Regions from separate parts of the Homo sapiens genome. Here region 2 is linked to region 1. The links come from fine-mapping of genetic effects on gene expression. A gene starts in region 1. The other region holds a variant in brackets. All regions are shown on one strand. Distances are between the middles of the regions. Region 1 holds the start of CDKAL1 (CDKAL1 threonylcarbamoyladenosine tRNA methylthiotransferase). Region 2 holds the start of LOC107986578 (a long non-coding RNA gene).

Region 1 (8,341 bases):
ACCATGTCCGGCTACTTTTTTGTTTGTTTTGTAGAGACAGGGTCTGGTCATGTTGCCCAGGCTGGTCTCAAACTCTTGGGCTCAAGTGAAACAACTGCCTGTGCCTCCCAAAGTGCTAGGATTACAGGCATGAGCCACCGTGCCTGGCCCCAGATTTTTATAATTTTCATATTTTATTCTTTATTGATTAGTCACTGAGAGGGTAAGAATTGTGTAACTTCTTTCTTGTCCATATTTTCTCTTCAATTTTTACTGTGAAGGCCAACATAAAATATTTAAGGCAAACAGATTTTTTTTTTTTTTTTGAGATGGAGTCTCACTGTGTCACCCAGGCTGGAGTGCAGTGGCGCGATCTCGGCTTACTGCAACCTCCACCTTCCAGGTTCAAGCGATTCTCCTGCCTCAGCCTCCCGAGTACCTGGGACTACAGGTGCCTGCCACCGCGCCCGGCTAAGTTTTGTATTTTTAGTAGAGACGGGATTTCACCATCTTGGCCAGGCTGGTCTTGAATTTGTGACCTCGTGATCCACCTGTCTCGGCCCCCTAAAGTGCTGGGATTACAGGCATGAGCCACTGTGCCCGGTCCAGGCAAACAGATTTTATTCCACTTTTCCTTGATCACTCTTTTGTTTTTTCTCTCCAATGCTTTTTCTCTATTTGAAATTTTGCACTATTGTTGCTTTCTTCTGAAGTATTCATATAGAGTTGTTAAAACAACTGAAGTCAGACTGCCTAAGCTTTAGGTTTCTTCTCTGTTAAAAGAGATAACAAGATAATAATAGCACTCCTCATTTATAGGGTTACTTATGGGTGGTTATTGGCACACATTTATAAGTGTTTGAAAAAATCTTAGCTTTACTATTATTTTATAGATTTACTTGCATTTTTAATGTTCTTGGTATACACCAATTGGTTTGTTTACTTATTACCAAATATTTATAAAGCATTTAGTGTTATATTGTTGGCTGAAAAAACAGGAACAAAATAGGATGGTGTATATTTATGAAGCTTAACTCTAATTTAAGAAACAAAGCATTATTTTTTTTTTTCTTTGAGACGGAGTCTCACTGTGTTGCCCAGGCTGGAGTGCAGTGGCGCGATCTCAGCTCACTGCAATCTCCGCCTTCCAGGTTCAAGCGATTCTCCTGCCTCAGCCTCCCGAGTAGTTGGGACTACAGGCTCATGCCACCATGCCTGGCTAATTTTTTGTATTTTTAGTAGAGACAGCGTTTTACCATGTTAGCCAGTATGGTCTTGATCTCCTGACCTCGTGATCCGCCCACCTTAGCCTTCCAAAGTGCTGGGATTACAGCCGTAAGCCATCGTGCCTGGCCTTTTTTTTTTTTTTTTAATCTTTTTGAGATGGAGTTTCGCTCTTGTTGTCCAGGCTGGAGTGCAATGGTGTAATCTCCGCTCACTGCAACCTCCACCTCCTGGGTTCAAGAGATTCTCCTGCCTCAGCCTCCTGAGTAGCTGGGATTACAGGCATATGCCACCACACCCAGCTAATTTTGTATTTTTAGTAGAGACAGGGTTTCACCATGTTGGTCAGTCTGGTCTTGAACTCTTGGCCTCAGGCGATCCACCCGCCTCGGCTTCCCAAAGTGCTAGGATTACAGGCGTGATCCACTGCACCCGGACTTACTGGTTGCTTTTCAAAGGTTGTACAGATACTATAAATATATTTAACCAATACTCTATTGAGGAGGAGCCGGAGAGGGTTTCCAGTCTTTTGCTATTGTAAGCAATGCTTAAAAAAATACTCTGGAACATAGGTCATTGTAAGCAATGCTTCAAAAAATACTCTGGAACATAGGTCATTGTAAGCAATGCTTCAAAAAATACTCTGGAACATAGGTCATTATGTATATTTCTGTAAGATAAATTCCTAGAGGTAGGGTTACTGACTTCAAAGGATTTAGACTAAAGGTGCTTAAAGAGAGAGGTTTCACCTGTTAGTTAGTTTTTGTAGCCAAAACTTGAAAACATCCTTTCTTCCTCTTTTTTCGTACCTATCAATCACCAAGTCTTGCTGCTGTTACCTCCTCAATTTGTTTAAATCTGTCCTTCCTTCCCATTCCTCCCAGCCAACAACTCAATTTAGGCTTTTACTATTTCTTCATGTCTGAAATATCGTCCTCAAACCCATTGTCCTGAGAGAATAATCTGCTCGAACACATTCATGTTGCCTACTACATACATCCAGGATTAAGTCTAATGCCTTTGAATACACAAGGTTCACCTTGATCTAGTCCCTGTGCTTCCCTTTCTCTGGTAGACTTCTCCCATCACCAGCTTCACTCTCTTTGCTTTTACACTGTGGAATAATTCATCATTTCAGGCCTCCTTGCTTTTGCTCTGGCTGACTCTCCAGCTTGGAATGCCTTCATCCATTTCCCTTACTTCACCTTTGTGTTCCTGTGCATTCATCTTTCATAGTGATTGCTATTCTCTACTGAAATGAATTTTTTCAAAATAGCCTGCAATTGCAATAGGCAGTACTTTTTTTCTTTCTTTTTAGCTCTAGCATCTATCACAGTGCTTGTGGTCATGGGGTACATACTCAGTAAAATATCTTTTACTGAACTCAACTAGATCTTGGGGGAAAAGGGGTGGAGTCATTCATTCATTCATTCATTCATTCAACATATGTTTATTGAGAAGCTATAAACATAGGCACAAGGTTATGTGCTAGGTAGTGCGATTACAACCAAGAAGATAACCCAGGGCCTACTTTTGGTCTAGTGAAAGAGATGGAATTAGATGGGTATGGTGGTGTGCACCTGTAGTCCCAGCTACTTGGGAGGCTAAGGCATGAGAATCTCTTGAGGCTAGGAGGGAGAGGTTGCAGTGAGCTGTGATGGTAACACTGTACTCCAGCCTGGGTGACAGAAGAAGACCCTATCTAAAAAAAAAAAAAAAAAAAAAAAAAAAGTAGGGCAACATAAATACACAATTTTAATTTAGGTGGGTAAAGACAACAGTGGACCCCAGGGCACAGTTTAGATTATTTTATGGATATGGATAAACAGAGAAAAGGGTGGTTTTTTTTTTTTTTTTTAAATCTATTTTAGAGACTGGGTCTCACTGTGTTGCCCAGGCTGTTTTCAAACTTCTGAGCTCAAGTGATCCTCCCACATCAGCCTCTTGAGTAGATGGATGGCATTTTAATTAGATGAAATTGTACTAGGAAAGGCATTTGCAAAACAAAGTAATTGCCCCAAATCACTATGAAACCCTAAGTCAGGCATAAAACTCACGATTTCTGACCCTTCTTCATGGCCTATTGCCTCCTATTACCTTTACTTTTTCAAGTAAAGATATTCTTCTGGTAAACACATGGTCAAATACAGTGTCTTGGGTAACGAATAGTAAAGTGAGATAACATATGTAGAGAAAGCGGGTGAGAATCCGTACTCCATAAAAGTATTTTCTTTCCATAGGTGTCTGCTAAACTGCCATCTAAGTTTTCCAAAACAAAAAACAAAAACACTTGTGTGGTGCTCAATGATGTATATTAAGTGAAACCTACCAACTGACCTTTATCCTTTCCTTCCTGTTTTTTTAATATTAAAGAAGAGACCTCTTTTCACAAATGATTGAGGAGGCTAGTAAAATGCAGTGAAAAGAGCAAGTTCTTTGGGAGTCAGACAGCATCGGATCCAGCCCAGAGCGCAGCACGACTAGTAGAGTAACTTAGATTAAGTCCTTAAACTTCCAGTGTCCTCTTTTGTAAACTGGGAATAATAATAATAATAAATAAATAGTGAATAATATTTATGCAAAGTACTTAGCACAGTGTCTAACACATAAAAGCTTAGGAGAAGTTGGCTATTAAGCATTTCTAGGAACCCGAGGACTCAGGGTTGTTATTTTAGTTCTTGGAATCAAAGGAACTTGAAGCGTAGTCATTCCTAAACTAAGTTAAACCAGAACTAGCGCTTTCAGCAATGATGTAATTTGATCTCTTCGGGCCACCGTCGCTGAGCATGCGCAAATAAACGTGGCGGGACGTATGTGTCATGGCGCTCTCCATCTAAAGTCTGTGCAGCTTCCGGAGAGTGGCGGGTTGATTTTCTCACTTTGGACTGGTTTTTACTTCCCGACTTCTGGGTAAGGGTGGCCGATGGGTCCATGTGGGGCAGAGTGTGGCCACAGCTCCTTTTATGGCCAAGCCTTGTTTCTCCAGTTTCAGTTTTTCTTGGGCTGTTTGCAAATTTGTTTCGCAGTTAAAAGGGGATTTGCCAGCTGGGATGGGGGAATTGGGAGGCAGATGGGGCTTCCAGGAGCGAGGATAGGGTCGTTGGCCTCAGGTGCCGCTCTCCAGTTAGGAGTATTTTAGGCACCTCGTTCCTTATTGTCAGGTTTAACTTCATTTGTTCTCCCACTTTATACCTTAGTGAATTTGTAGATGTGACAAGGCTTTCGCAGTTATATAGCTTTCCCAGATCAGTATGTTAAGAATTTAAGCAGAAGTTATTGAGAAAAGCAGGTGTCTTGCTTTTTCACTTTTCGTTCTTCTTTGCTCATAAAACCTTTTTCTGAATCTCGGGACGACAGTTATCTTTCGGATGGAACGTGATCTGGATGTCTATCTACCTTATTGACTTAATCCTGTTTTGTAGTGGTTGGTTACTCGCACTATGCAGACGTGTTGCGGTGCTGAATACAACATTTATTACTAAAGCCAGACACTGGATCACCGTCACGGCAGATGTCAGCACACCTGTTGTAATCAGTAAGAAGTTACAAGTAGTATGGAGCATCATTAATCCTGCTGTATAAAGCAGTCTTTTATGGAGTCTGATTCCTTTTAAGTAAAGAATCCTTACAGTGGTTTTGTGAACTTTTTGGGTGCTTACTTTTCCTAATCAATTTTTATTTTCCAGACTCATCTTTCAAGAGGACTTTAGACTAATTGCAGATAATTAAGGTACTGATTTATTTTAAACCTTTTATGTTTGAGTGCTGTGCGTATTTCTGCATGTTAGAAAATGCAGAGAGGTAGCCTAATGTTTTAGCTATTTGCCACTATCATGTTATGGAAACATTGTGCTTTACATAGCATTAAATCGAAGAGATATTTTCATTTATTTTACTTAACCTTTCATTTTCATTCACCAGCATTGACCATGTCCACTTTTTTGAGATGCCCTTTTCATTTGCCTTCCATGGCCCATGGATTTTTTTCCTTGTCTGGTGGCTGCTTCTTGGAATCCATTATAAGCTGATTTTCCTTTATCTGGCAGTTAAATTTGGAGTCTCTCAAGTCGTGGTCTTGTACCTTCTCCTACCTCTGTTCTCTTTTTCTTCCCCTCTGGGTGATGTAATCCACATGCCTGTCAACAGTTATTTGTCTTTTTGATTCTACCCATCCTAATGGGTATGAAGTGGTGTATTATTGTGGTTTGGATTTCCATTTCCCTGATGGCTCATGATGTTGACATCTTTTCATGTGCTTATCAGCCATTTGTATGTGTGTGTTTTTGAGACACGGCTTCCCTATGCCACCCAGGCCAGAGTGCAGTGGCTCGATTACGGCTCACTGCAGCCTTGACCACCTGGTCTCAAGTGATCCCACTTCAGCCTCCCAAGTAGCTGGGACTACAGGTGCATGCCACCATGCCCGGCTAAATTTTACTTTTTTTTTTTTTTTTGTAGCGATAGGGTCCGTGTTGCCTAGGCTCTGGCCTTGTACTCCTGGCCTGAAGTGATCCTGCCACCTTGGCTTCCCAGTGTTGGGATTATAGGCATGAGCCTCTGCACCTGGCCCATTTCTGTATCTTCTTCATCTAATCTGTTTTTCCTTTTGTTGCTTGTGCTTTTCATTTCTTAGCTAAGAAAGAAGGGCCTACTCTAACATCATAAAGATTTGTGCTTATGTTTTTTTCTAAGAGTTTCATAATGTTAGCTCCTAAATTTAGGTCTATGATCCATTTTCGGTTAATTTTTGTATATGATGTGAAATGTGAAATAGGGCTCCAACTTTATTTTTTACATGTTGCTATCCAGTTATCCCAGTGTCATTTGTTGAAAAAAAAACTACGCTTTCCCCCTTGAATTGTCTAGGTTATGTATATTTGACATACATTCTAGGTGGTTTTTATGAAAGAATAATTCTGGGACAGTGATTATCAAACTTTAATTCAGATCAAAATCACCTAGAGGGCCTGTTAAATATTGCTAGGTTTTACTCAAAATATCTGATTTAGTATGTCTGGAGTGGAGTTCAAGAATTTTCATTTCTGGCTGGGCATGGTGGCTCATGCCTGTAATCCCATACTTTAGGGGCCAAGATGGGAGGAGTTTGAGACCAGCCTGGACAACAAAGCGAGACCTTGTTTTTACAAAAAAACTGAAAAAGAAAAAATGTTCATTTCTAACAAGTTCCCCATGATGCTACTCCAGCTGATGTGGAAACTACACTTTGAAAACCACTGGACATTGCTTTGCAACTGTGGCTGTACACACATGAGAATGACTGGAAAGTTTTTAAAAGATATTGATGCCCAGGCTCCATTCTCAGAGATTCATTCAGCTATCTTGGGGCTTAGTTGGGAATTTTCTTTTTTTTCTTTTGTTTTTGTTTTTGTTTTGAGACAGAGTCTCGCTCTGTCGCCCAGGCTGGAGTGCAGTGGCGTGATCTCGGCTCACTGCAAGCTTAGTTGGGAATTTTCAAAAGCTCTTCAGGTGAATAGAATGAGTGTTGAAGATTGAGAACCATTACTGTGGAATCGTGGTTCTTAATTAGGGATCTATAGTGGAATTACCTGGACAGTTTCTATGTTCACATACTTCAGTTCTACTCTTGGAGATTCTAATTCAGAATGGAACCTGGAGATTTGATATGATGAAAAGCTTCCCGCTGGGTGCAGTGGCTCACGCCTGTAATCCCAGCACTTTGGGAGGCCAAGGCAGGTGGATCACCTGAGGTTGGGAGTTCAAGACCAGCCTGACCAACATGGTGAAACCCCGTCTCTACTAAAAATACAAAATTAGCTGGGCGTGGTGGCAGGTGCCTGTAATCCCAGCTACTCGGGAGGCTGAGGCAGGAGAATTGCTTGAACCCAGGAGGCACAGGTTGCAGTGAGCCGAGATCGTGCCATTGCACTCCAGCCTGGGCAGCAAGAGTGAAACTCTGTCTCATAATTACAAAAAAAAAAAAAAAAAGCCTCCCTAATAACTCACCTATGTAAGTAACCACTGCTCTAGGATATTGCATCCTCCTTCTTCCTATCATTTTGAGTATTTTCCTTTTCACTGACTCTATTTTTATTCCCTTTATCAAATTTGATTTCCTCTACCTTTGAGAAAAATTTTTAATGATCCTTTTGCTCCATTTAGCTATTACGCTGCTTTCCTTTTATTCTCAAACTTTCATTTCCATATGATTTAATTAAAAATTTCTGAAGGCTAAACAATTCCCTCTATCAGTCTATCAGTTTGTTCAAAGTAAAACCTTTAGCTTATTAATAGTGATGAGTGAGATTATTTAGGTACTTATGATATACAGCCAGGTTTATGCTACATAATGCTGATATGCAGCGTTATATTTATCTTTTTTGAGTGAATATCTCCAAATGAAATTGCTGGCTCGAAGGATATACATATGTTTGGTATAATTGTCAGGTTGCCCTCCAGAAGGGGTGTACCAGTTTTTCTGTGCTTTCAGCTAACAGAGTTTTTGTCAGCTTTGTATCAGTGAGGCAGCTGAAAAATAACTTATTGTTTCAATACTTGTTGTTAGTGTGGTTGAGCATTCTTTCCTCTTTTTTTTTTTTTCTTTTCTGGGTATTTGTATTTCTTAAGTGAACTGCCTGTTTTTCCTTTACGCATTGTTTTCTGGAATGTGGTTACTTATTAGTGTCACATTAGATTCTTGCATTGTTTGTACTTTGCCAGTGAGGCAAAGCCATAGTGGGAAGAGCATGGTATTGAGAGGATGCCAAGGTTCTGATTTCTAGCTCTATCAATGTACAAATCCTTTTGCTTCAGTGGACTCCAGCTCTGTAAGATAAGAAGCTTAGCAACTTCTGCTTCTCTAACTCTAATGATATGGGATGTCTATTGCAGTGGATTCCTTTCATTCCTCTTTTTCCTTTCTATTTCTCTTCAGTGGATCCATACACACTTGTATATGGGATGGCAAAATTGTGTAATTAAAAAATATGGCTTTTAATTAATGTTATTTAATTATTCATGATCTGTCAGTAGTTCTTCCGCATTCCAAAGGCACTACCTGGTCCTAGCCTCTCTCATTTAATTATTTCATAGAAGAGTGGTGATAGAAGAAATCCTAGGGGTTGGGCATTTACTTCAGCTTCCCACCCAGTGTAGAATT
Region 2 (8,341 bases), 700 kb after region 1:
GGGAGTCCCATGTTATTGGGGGAGGCACCGATTCTGAAGCAGGTACACGAGGTGAAAATATCATCAATTGTGCTTCGAAACTAGAGCCACCCTGACAATAGCCAGGTGCTCCTCTCTCCGCTTCCCTGGACACCAGCTAAGAAGCCGGTGAACAGAAACCACTGAGAAAAGCTGCACAGTCAGGTCCCCAGCTTCTCAGCTCTGCCCAAGCAGGGTTTCCCAACCTGTTCTCTATCTGGCATGAAGAGAAAATGATGATAGTATTTGTATGGCACACAAGGTACTTTGAGGGGACTGAGTGTGGGGTTATGTGGGGTGGGTCACTCTTGGCGCAGCCCTCCTGTGGCAGCAGACCAGCTGGGAATCTTTGTCCTAGGGATGTGTTTGCTGAATCATGGCTTCCATGGTTGTTGGTTGGTTTGTTTGTTTTTGAGACAGGGTCTCACTCTGTTGCCCAGGCTGGAGTGCAGCAGCGCAATCTTGGCTCACTGTAGCCTTCACCTTCCAGGTTCCAGCAATTCTCCTGCCTCAGCCTCCAGAGTAGCTGGGACTACCGGCACCTGCCACCACACCCAGCTAATTTTTATATTTTTAGTGGAGACGGGGTTTCACCATGTTGGCCAGGCTGGTCTCAAACCTCTGACCTCAAGTGATCAGCCCGCCTTGGCCTCCCAAAGTGCTGGGATTACAGGCGTGAGCCACCACACCTGGCCCATGGTGTTTCTTTGTCATTCTTCCATTGCTGAGAAGATATGGTTGCATCTCTCTAAGAGTTAAATATGTCTGTGGTATGACTCCACTTTACACAGATTCTACCCTTCATGAATTCTGCCTTGATTTTCTATAAACACGGCCCGTCTTTCTCATACAGTTTATGTGTAGTCTGGAGTCATGAACTTGGCCTGGCCCTTCAAGGAAAGGAACTGACTCATTCATACCTACCTTGGGGCCACCTGGCCCATGGTGGGTGTTCAAACGTGTCTCTGTTGAAGGAGTACATAAAAGGCGGCACCTTCTGGAACCCATTGCTTGATTGATATCACAACAGGGCTTTCTCTGCATCTAAAAATAATTTTTTCCTCTGTTTCTCTCTTTATAGGACTTCAGAAATGGGCTTGGGAACCAGCTGAGTTCAGGATCCCACACCTCTGCTGCATCTCAGTGTGACTCAGCGAGTTCCAGAATGGTGCTGCCCATGCCAAGGCTACATCAAGACTGTGCGCTGAGGATGTCCGTGGGCTTGGCTCTGCTGGGTCTTCTTTTTGCTTTTTTTGTCAAGGTCTATAATTAGAATACAACTAATGGAAACATCTATAAAGAAGAATACATTTCTAATTAAAATCTTCAATGAACAGGAAAGCGACATCTCCATTCTCCAAGGGCAATAATTTGTACTGGTCATGCTGCCTCCTTCTCAGCCACTCTTCTTAATGAGGCTCCCCCTGTCTCACATTGAGTTGGGCCCATTGGTTATTTGACCTAAAACCTAATCACCGCTACCATAGCACATCCTTCAAATTAAACTGCTTTTGGTTTACTTTTAGCAAGAAATGCAAGCGGTTGCATTTTTTTCTGTTTGTTTCAATCTCTAATCTTTAAGTCAGAACCTAATTGTACAGTGGCTCTGGCCATCTTTTCCTCATGTGGAAGAATTTTCTATCTTTAATAAACTTTTTCTTTGTTTTTTTTTTCCAGATGGAGTTTCGCTCTTGTCCCCCAGGCTGGAGTGGTGCAGTGGCACGATCTCAGGTCACTGCAACCTCTGCCTCCTGGGTTCAAACGATTCTCCTGCCTCAGCCTCCCAAGTAGCTGGGATTACAGGCATGCGCCACCAAGCCCAGACAATTTTTTTGTGTTTTCAGTAGAGACGGAGTTTCACCATGTTGGCCAGGCTAGTCTCGAACTCCTGACCTCAAGTGATCCGCCCGCCTCGGCCTCCCAAAGTGCTAGGATTACAGGCGTGAGCCACTGCGCCCGGCCTCTTTAATAAATATTTTTAAGTGCATCTTCCCCTTCAGGCTTTGTTTGGAGTCCCAGTGCTACAAACATTGTATTTTTCACAGCAGATGTGTTCCTGAAAAGTGTATAGAAACCTGTTCTGGGAACCTGAATGCTTTTGGAATGCACGGGGAGAGTCTGCCAGCTAAAGGACTCCTGGCAACATTCTGTGAAATATGAAACTGGAAAACTGGATTTGTCGAAAACTAATTGTGCCCATTTTCTCACATTTTTGATCCATTGGGGTTTTTTTTTTGTTTTTGTTTTTTTTTTTTTTTGAGTCAAGGTCTCACTCTGTCACCCTGGCTGGAGTGCAATGGCACTATCTTGGCTCACTGCAGCCTTGACCTCCTGGACTCAAGCAGTCCTCCTACCTCAGCCTCCCTAATAGCCAGGGGCTACAGGCATATACCACCATGCCCAACTAATTTTTTAATTTTTTGTAGAGATGAGTGTCACTATGTTGCCCAGGCTTGCCTGGAACTCCTAGCCTCAAGCAGTCTTCTTGCCTCAGCCTCCCAAAGTGCTGGGATTACAGGCGTGAGCCACTCCACCCAGCCCAGATTAAATGTTTTTATTTCTACCTGCCATCATTGGTCTTTACTAAGTGAAGTGACTTCTTTCTTTAACAATAAATAGAATTGGTATACTAAGCAAATCCTATGTTTTTGAGAATTTATTTGGATTGCATAGGTACAGGAAAACCAGGTACCGTGTAGTTACCATAGGATATTTTCCATCTCGAAACCCATACCCCTCTTCAGCTCTTACATTTAACTCAAAATGTTTGTGTTTTGTGTGTCTTTTAAGGAACCCAAATTAAAATTCAGTCATGTCCTAGTTGGTAAATTATAAAATATATATGCTTTTAGTGTTAGTACATTTCTCCTGGAACTGGTATGTGCTTCTAAGAGGTGCTCACATTTAGAATGCAAAAATCCTCCTGTGCTGCTTCTAGTCCTGCAGTGAAACATCCACTTGGGAGCACCCCTCACTTCTTAGCAGGAATGAGAAGAGGACAAGAACCTACCATGTGCCTCCCTTCTTGAGCTCTACGCAGTCATTTCTTTGTTAATAAACAGTGGGTTCCAGTGTGGTGCTCATTTAACAAAAACCTAGCAGAGATAAAAATGCCATCCAAAGCCTAGAGTTGCACTAGATCAGACATAGAGAAAGCTTTACACCTGTAACTGATTGGAGACAAAAAGGATTTTTTCTACCTCCCTTTTCTCTTTCCCTACTCTTTTCCTCACTCCCTCATCTGTTTATTTCCTCCCTTCTAGCTCTATGCTGTCCTCGCCTTTTTTCATTTTTTTCTTCCTGTAAGAGAATGATACACCCAGTCATCCAAATTCCCCCCCTGCTGCTCTCACCTACCATGGCAGGGATCCTCAAGGATCGTTTCAGCTGTACAGGATTCTCCCTACTTCCTGCTGTGACTGTTATTTACCCTCAATTTGGCTGCAGCTTCACTCTGCCGTTTGACCCAGAAAGGGACCGAGGTCACTGCCCGCAGCAGACGCTGGACCTTCATGAAATCAGTCTCCATACTGGCGACCAATTGGTGAGAGGGGTAGCAGTGTTCTGGAAATCCAGGGTTTTTCTTCCCCCTGTGACCTCCATCTCTAGGGAGGGGGAGGGAGAGAGCAGAGAAGGATGCAGTGCAAGTTAAAAACAGTTTTCTTAAGCCCTGGACTCTGAATGGGGCTGAGTCTGGGAACCACGGGAGCAAGTGTGATCATGAGTAGAGCTGTTACTTTTCCAGCCTGTCTCCTTCCTGCCCACAGTGCAACTGCGCTTCTCCCGCCCCGCTGAAGTTAGGCACGAAATGTGAAATGTGAGCGGAAGGGTCACGTCCTTCTTCGGGGCAGACATGTTCAGAGCTGGTGTACGGTTTACTGTGTGCTCTTCCCACTGCTGTGGTGATCCTGGACCCATATGTCAGAATGACGCCTCCCCGACCCTGGGTCCCTGAGTTAGTACAGTTGAGTAGGGCTCCTGGCCAGCATGTGCTACATAGGCATCAGGAACCAGAAATATATTGTGGTTGTGTTAAGCCACCGGCATCTGGGGGTCGTAGCCGTAGCAT[T/A]CGTAACCTGATTTATACGAAGTGTCAGCCGTGATAGGATGCTTGACCCGCAGATTGTAAATGTAATTGTTATGTTTTCTTTGTATGCTTTTGTATGCTTTGCATTAGTATCAAGGGGTGTGTGTGTGTGTGTGTGTGTGTGTGTGTGTGTGTGTACTTCTCTGCTGAGAAGGAAACCTATGAAGTGATCTTTTCAATGCTTTGGCCAATTTTTTTCTTAAACTCTTTACTAGAATAAAACATACATATGAAATGGACATAAATCATAGGGATACAGGGATTTTTAAAAACTGAGCAAGCATTGTAGCCAGCACCAGGAGGCTCCCCATGTACCCTCCTAGCCATTAAGTCTGCCCCGCAAGGAGTAACCAGTATCCTTATTTCTAACATTACAGATTGATTTGCCTGATTCTAAACTTTCTATAAGTGGAATCATGTAGTATGCACTATTTCATGTCTACCTTCTTTTGTTCTACAGTGATTGTGAGACACATCCAGATTATTGTGTGAGCAGTAATTACTTCACGTTCATTGCTGAATAGTATTTCAGTGTATGAGTACACCACATTGTTCATTCTACATTTGAGTTCTTTCCAATTTTTTGTCTATTATGAATAATGCTGCTATAAACACGTTTTGTTAAGTGTTTATGTGATGATGTGAGGAGTACATGTCTAGGGGTGGAATTGCTGGGTCATAGCATTTGCATATGTTCAGCTTAGATACTGCTAAATGGTTTTCTGAAGTGGTTGTACCAATTTACATCCCCACCAGCAGTTGACATGAATTCTGTCATTCTCCCACTATTTTTTCTCTTTGGACCTTAGATATTCTTCAGCAGACCTTGTCTCTGCTGTCTCCCTTCCACAAGTCATTCCTATTTTAATAGTAATGATAATATTGACAACCATTAACTGTCTAGTCCTTAAATGAAATGCACTGGATGTTATACTTTGCACTTAACAGGTGTTAATCAGTCCTGAAGAAAAAATTTTGAGATACGTATTGTGATTCCCATCATACTGAGAAGAAAATCTAAAACTCAAAAGACTAAGTAACTTGTGCAAGAGGCACAGAGCTCTTAAGTTTAGAGGCAGGACTGGTACACAGCCTGACTCCAAAGCATATACTCCTCTTCTGTAAACTCCTCCTGCTCCTCTGTCCCATCTTTGACTTAAACTTGACCTGTGCCAACAGATACACATTTAGGATCAATCCTGTGGATGCCTGAGCTTGGGGGCCTTCAGCCTTTCAGTCTGTGTTGTCCTGCTCCAAGAATGTGCATGGTACTTGATATACTTTTTAAATAAAGATTTACTAATCAAGCTTTTTTCTTTGCCCTGCCCCCTCCTTCCTTCCTTCTTTCTTTCCCTCCTTTCTATTGTCCCTGCTTCATCTTATCATCCCTGCTTCCTTTCTTATCATCCCAGCATGAGATAGTCAGTTTGAGAATGTAAAGAATTCTTGGGTTAAAACTTTGCTTTGTTGCTGGGAAAATGTGTCTAAACATCAGATTTCCATATGTCATTCAGTCAAAACATATACTACTTCTACTGACTTCACTCCAGGTTGAAAATTTCAGTGTATATTGTAAGATGTCATGGAGGGAGAATTAGAGTTACAAATCAAGCTTCAAGAGGGTTTGTCATCATAAAACAAACATAGGAAAAAAATGAAGAGAGAGAGGGAGGGAAGAGAAGAAAGGAGGGGAGAGAAAAGGAAGAAAAAGAAAAGGAGAAAAGATATTCTTAAGGCTTGCAGCAACAACAAAAAAGGTAATCATATGAGATGATGGGTATGGTAATTCACTTGACTGTAGCCACCATTTTGCTGTGTATATGTGTATCAATACATGTTCACCTTAAATACTCACAATAAAAAATGAATATGTACGTTTTCTAAAAGGTTTGCTGGTCCCCCCAGGCACCCCAGGATGCTGTGGCACATTCACAGGAGCACCCTGGGATTCCTTAAATTTTTGGAGGGAACACAGCAACATCTGTCAGATACCAGGCCAACTACCAGCTCAAAATAGTTCACAGTTTTCAACGTTAGATTTCACAAATTTTGATGACACCATGTCTTTATAAAACTGGATTTTCAGCAATTGCTGTGATAAAAAGCAAGTATCAAGTGAAAATCAATGTGGAACAAGAAGTGAAAATTGTGATCATAGTCCAAGGTTTGAGAAGGGGTGCTGTACCCAACAGATGCACAGCTGCCATTAATAAGTAAAATTAATATGAAATAAAATATTAATATTTTTATCTAAGTTACATGTATTATTTTTTCAAACGGTTCTCATAAGATAGTAGGATATAAATGCTTATTCAGTTGTCAGGATTACCTATTTAAACAGAAGGTTAGCTGCTGCTTTTGGCCTAGGGGTACAAACAATCAAGAAAGTTTGAAAACCTCTGCTCTATGATACAACCTAATTTAAAGGATCCATGTCAAACTTATAATCTGGAGTCCTAATCCCTTCTCAAAATATTTTCCCCTTACTTTAAAGTTAGATTATCCATAGCATGTGTTTGATAAATTTACACTGGACTTGCCGTTGAGTTTGATTTTTATGATGTTGAAACTGTAAAGGAGTTAACAATCAGAATCACTTGGATTCAGCTCTCAGTTGTTTCCAATACAAATTTGAGGCAGAAAATATAAGGAAAGACCATGAGATTTTTGACATCAGCAAAACTTTAAATTCCAGCCAGACCACTTTTTCTTTTTGAGCCACATCTCTAAAACAGGAACAAGATTCCATTGTGGGTCATTGAAAGATAAGTGAACTCATGCATATAAAATACTGTATTCTTGACACATGACATTTCCTCCTCTTTTTTGATTACTGTAGCCACTTAAAGGTGAAAAATACCTTTATAAATAAAGTTAGGTGTTTTAAATTCTGATATCAACACATGACCACCCAAAAGATTTATATATGGAATAAAAAGATTCCTACCTTGAGAGAGATAGAGTCTGATTCTAACAAATGCAGCAAAGGAAGAAAAATTCAAAGGCAATGGACTGCAGCTGTATTTGAGGAGATCAAATTAATGAATAGTGTGGAGCACAGATTTGGGTGGCCAATCTAAGATCAAGAAGGAGATTTTCCATGGCCAAAGATGAAAAGAGCAACCAGATTAATAGGGAGGCCTAGAAGTCATGCCCTCCCCCATCCTGCTTTGAGACTAAAAGGAAATGCAGACACTATTATTCTTGATTAGTTTTCTGTCAATTATTTTCTCCCAGTACTGTTTCCTAGAGTTCTATAGCCAAAATATCTCAACGGTGTAGAAGCTGAAGCAAAGGATGTCACTTGGTGTCTCATGATCTTCCTAGCTTCTGGGTATCTGAATACATTTCTGAGCACTAATGATGCAAGTTCTCAGGAAAAAAAAAAGCAGGGGGATGGAGGAGAACAACCTTGGGTCAAGGTAAAGGAAAACTTGGAGTTCAGAAAAACCTAAAGAAGTATGAGTTTTTAACTCCGAGGTTTATCTAATCTGCTTTTAATATGCCCAATTAATCACAAACCAATAGATGTTATACTAGACAGTCTGATTCCAAAGCCCAATGCCTGCTTTCACCACTGCTGTTTACATTGTACTGGGAGTTCTAGTGAGAACTATTAGACAACAAAAAGAAGTAAAGGGCATCAAATTGGAAAGGAGTAGGTAACACTATCTCTATTTGCAGATTACATGATCATATGTATAAAGCATCCCAAAGAAACCACAGGAAAGCAACTAGAGCTAATAAATGAATTTAGCAAAGTTACAGACTATAAGACCAATGCAAAAAAAGAAATTCATTTGTGTTTTTTTACACTAGCAATGAACAATCCGAAAAGGAAATTGAGAAAGCAGTTCCATCTACAATAGCAGCTAAACAAATTAAACACTTAGGAATATATCTAACTAAGGGGGTAAAAGATTTGTATGCTGAAAACTAAAAATCATTGCTGAAAGAAATTTATGAATATCTGAAAAATGGAAAGGTATCGTATGTTCATTAATAGGAAAACTTAGCATTAAGATGTTAATACTACCCAAAGTGAGCTACAGATTAAACACACTCTCTATCAAAATTCTAACAGCCTGTTTTACCAAAATGGAAAAGCCAACCCTCAAACTCATATGGAATCACAGGCAACCCCAAATAGCTAAAACAATCTCTAAAAAGTAGACTAAAACTGGAGGACTCATGTTTTCCAACTTCAAAACTTCCAACAAAGCTACAGTAACTACA

The links.
Region 2: its variant is fine-mapped to the expression of CDKAL1 in whole blood (TOPMed, PIP 0.95).

Annotation. Positions count from the first base shown.
Region 1 is chr6:20,530,462-20,538,802 of GRCh38, forward strand. CDKAL1 (CDKAL1 threonylcarbamoyladenosine tRNA methylthiotransferase) reads left to right here and starts at 3,996. Exons shown (of 16, transcript NM_017774.3): 1 at 3,996-4,113; 2 at 4,890-4,933. RefSeq lists enhancers at 3,925-4,084, 4,115-4,194.
Region 2 is chr6:21,229,749-21,238,089 of GRCh38, forward strand. It overlaps CDKAL1 (CDKAL1 threonylcarbamoyladenosine tRNA methylthiotransferase), which reads left to right. Exons shown (of 16, transcript NM_017774.3): 16 at 1,100-2,656. The coding sequence ends at 1,291. LOC107986578 (a long non-coding RNA gene) reads right to left here and starts at 1,311. Exons shown (of 2, transcript XR_001744021.2): 1 at 943-1,311. RefSeq lists an enhancer at 473-1,672. The variant T/A (reference allele first, on the strand shown) is at 4,088.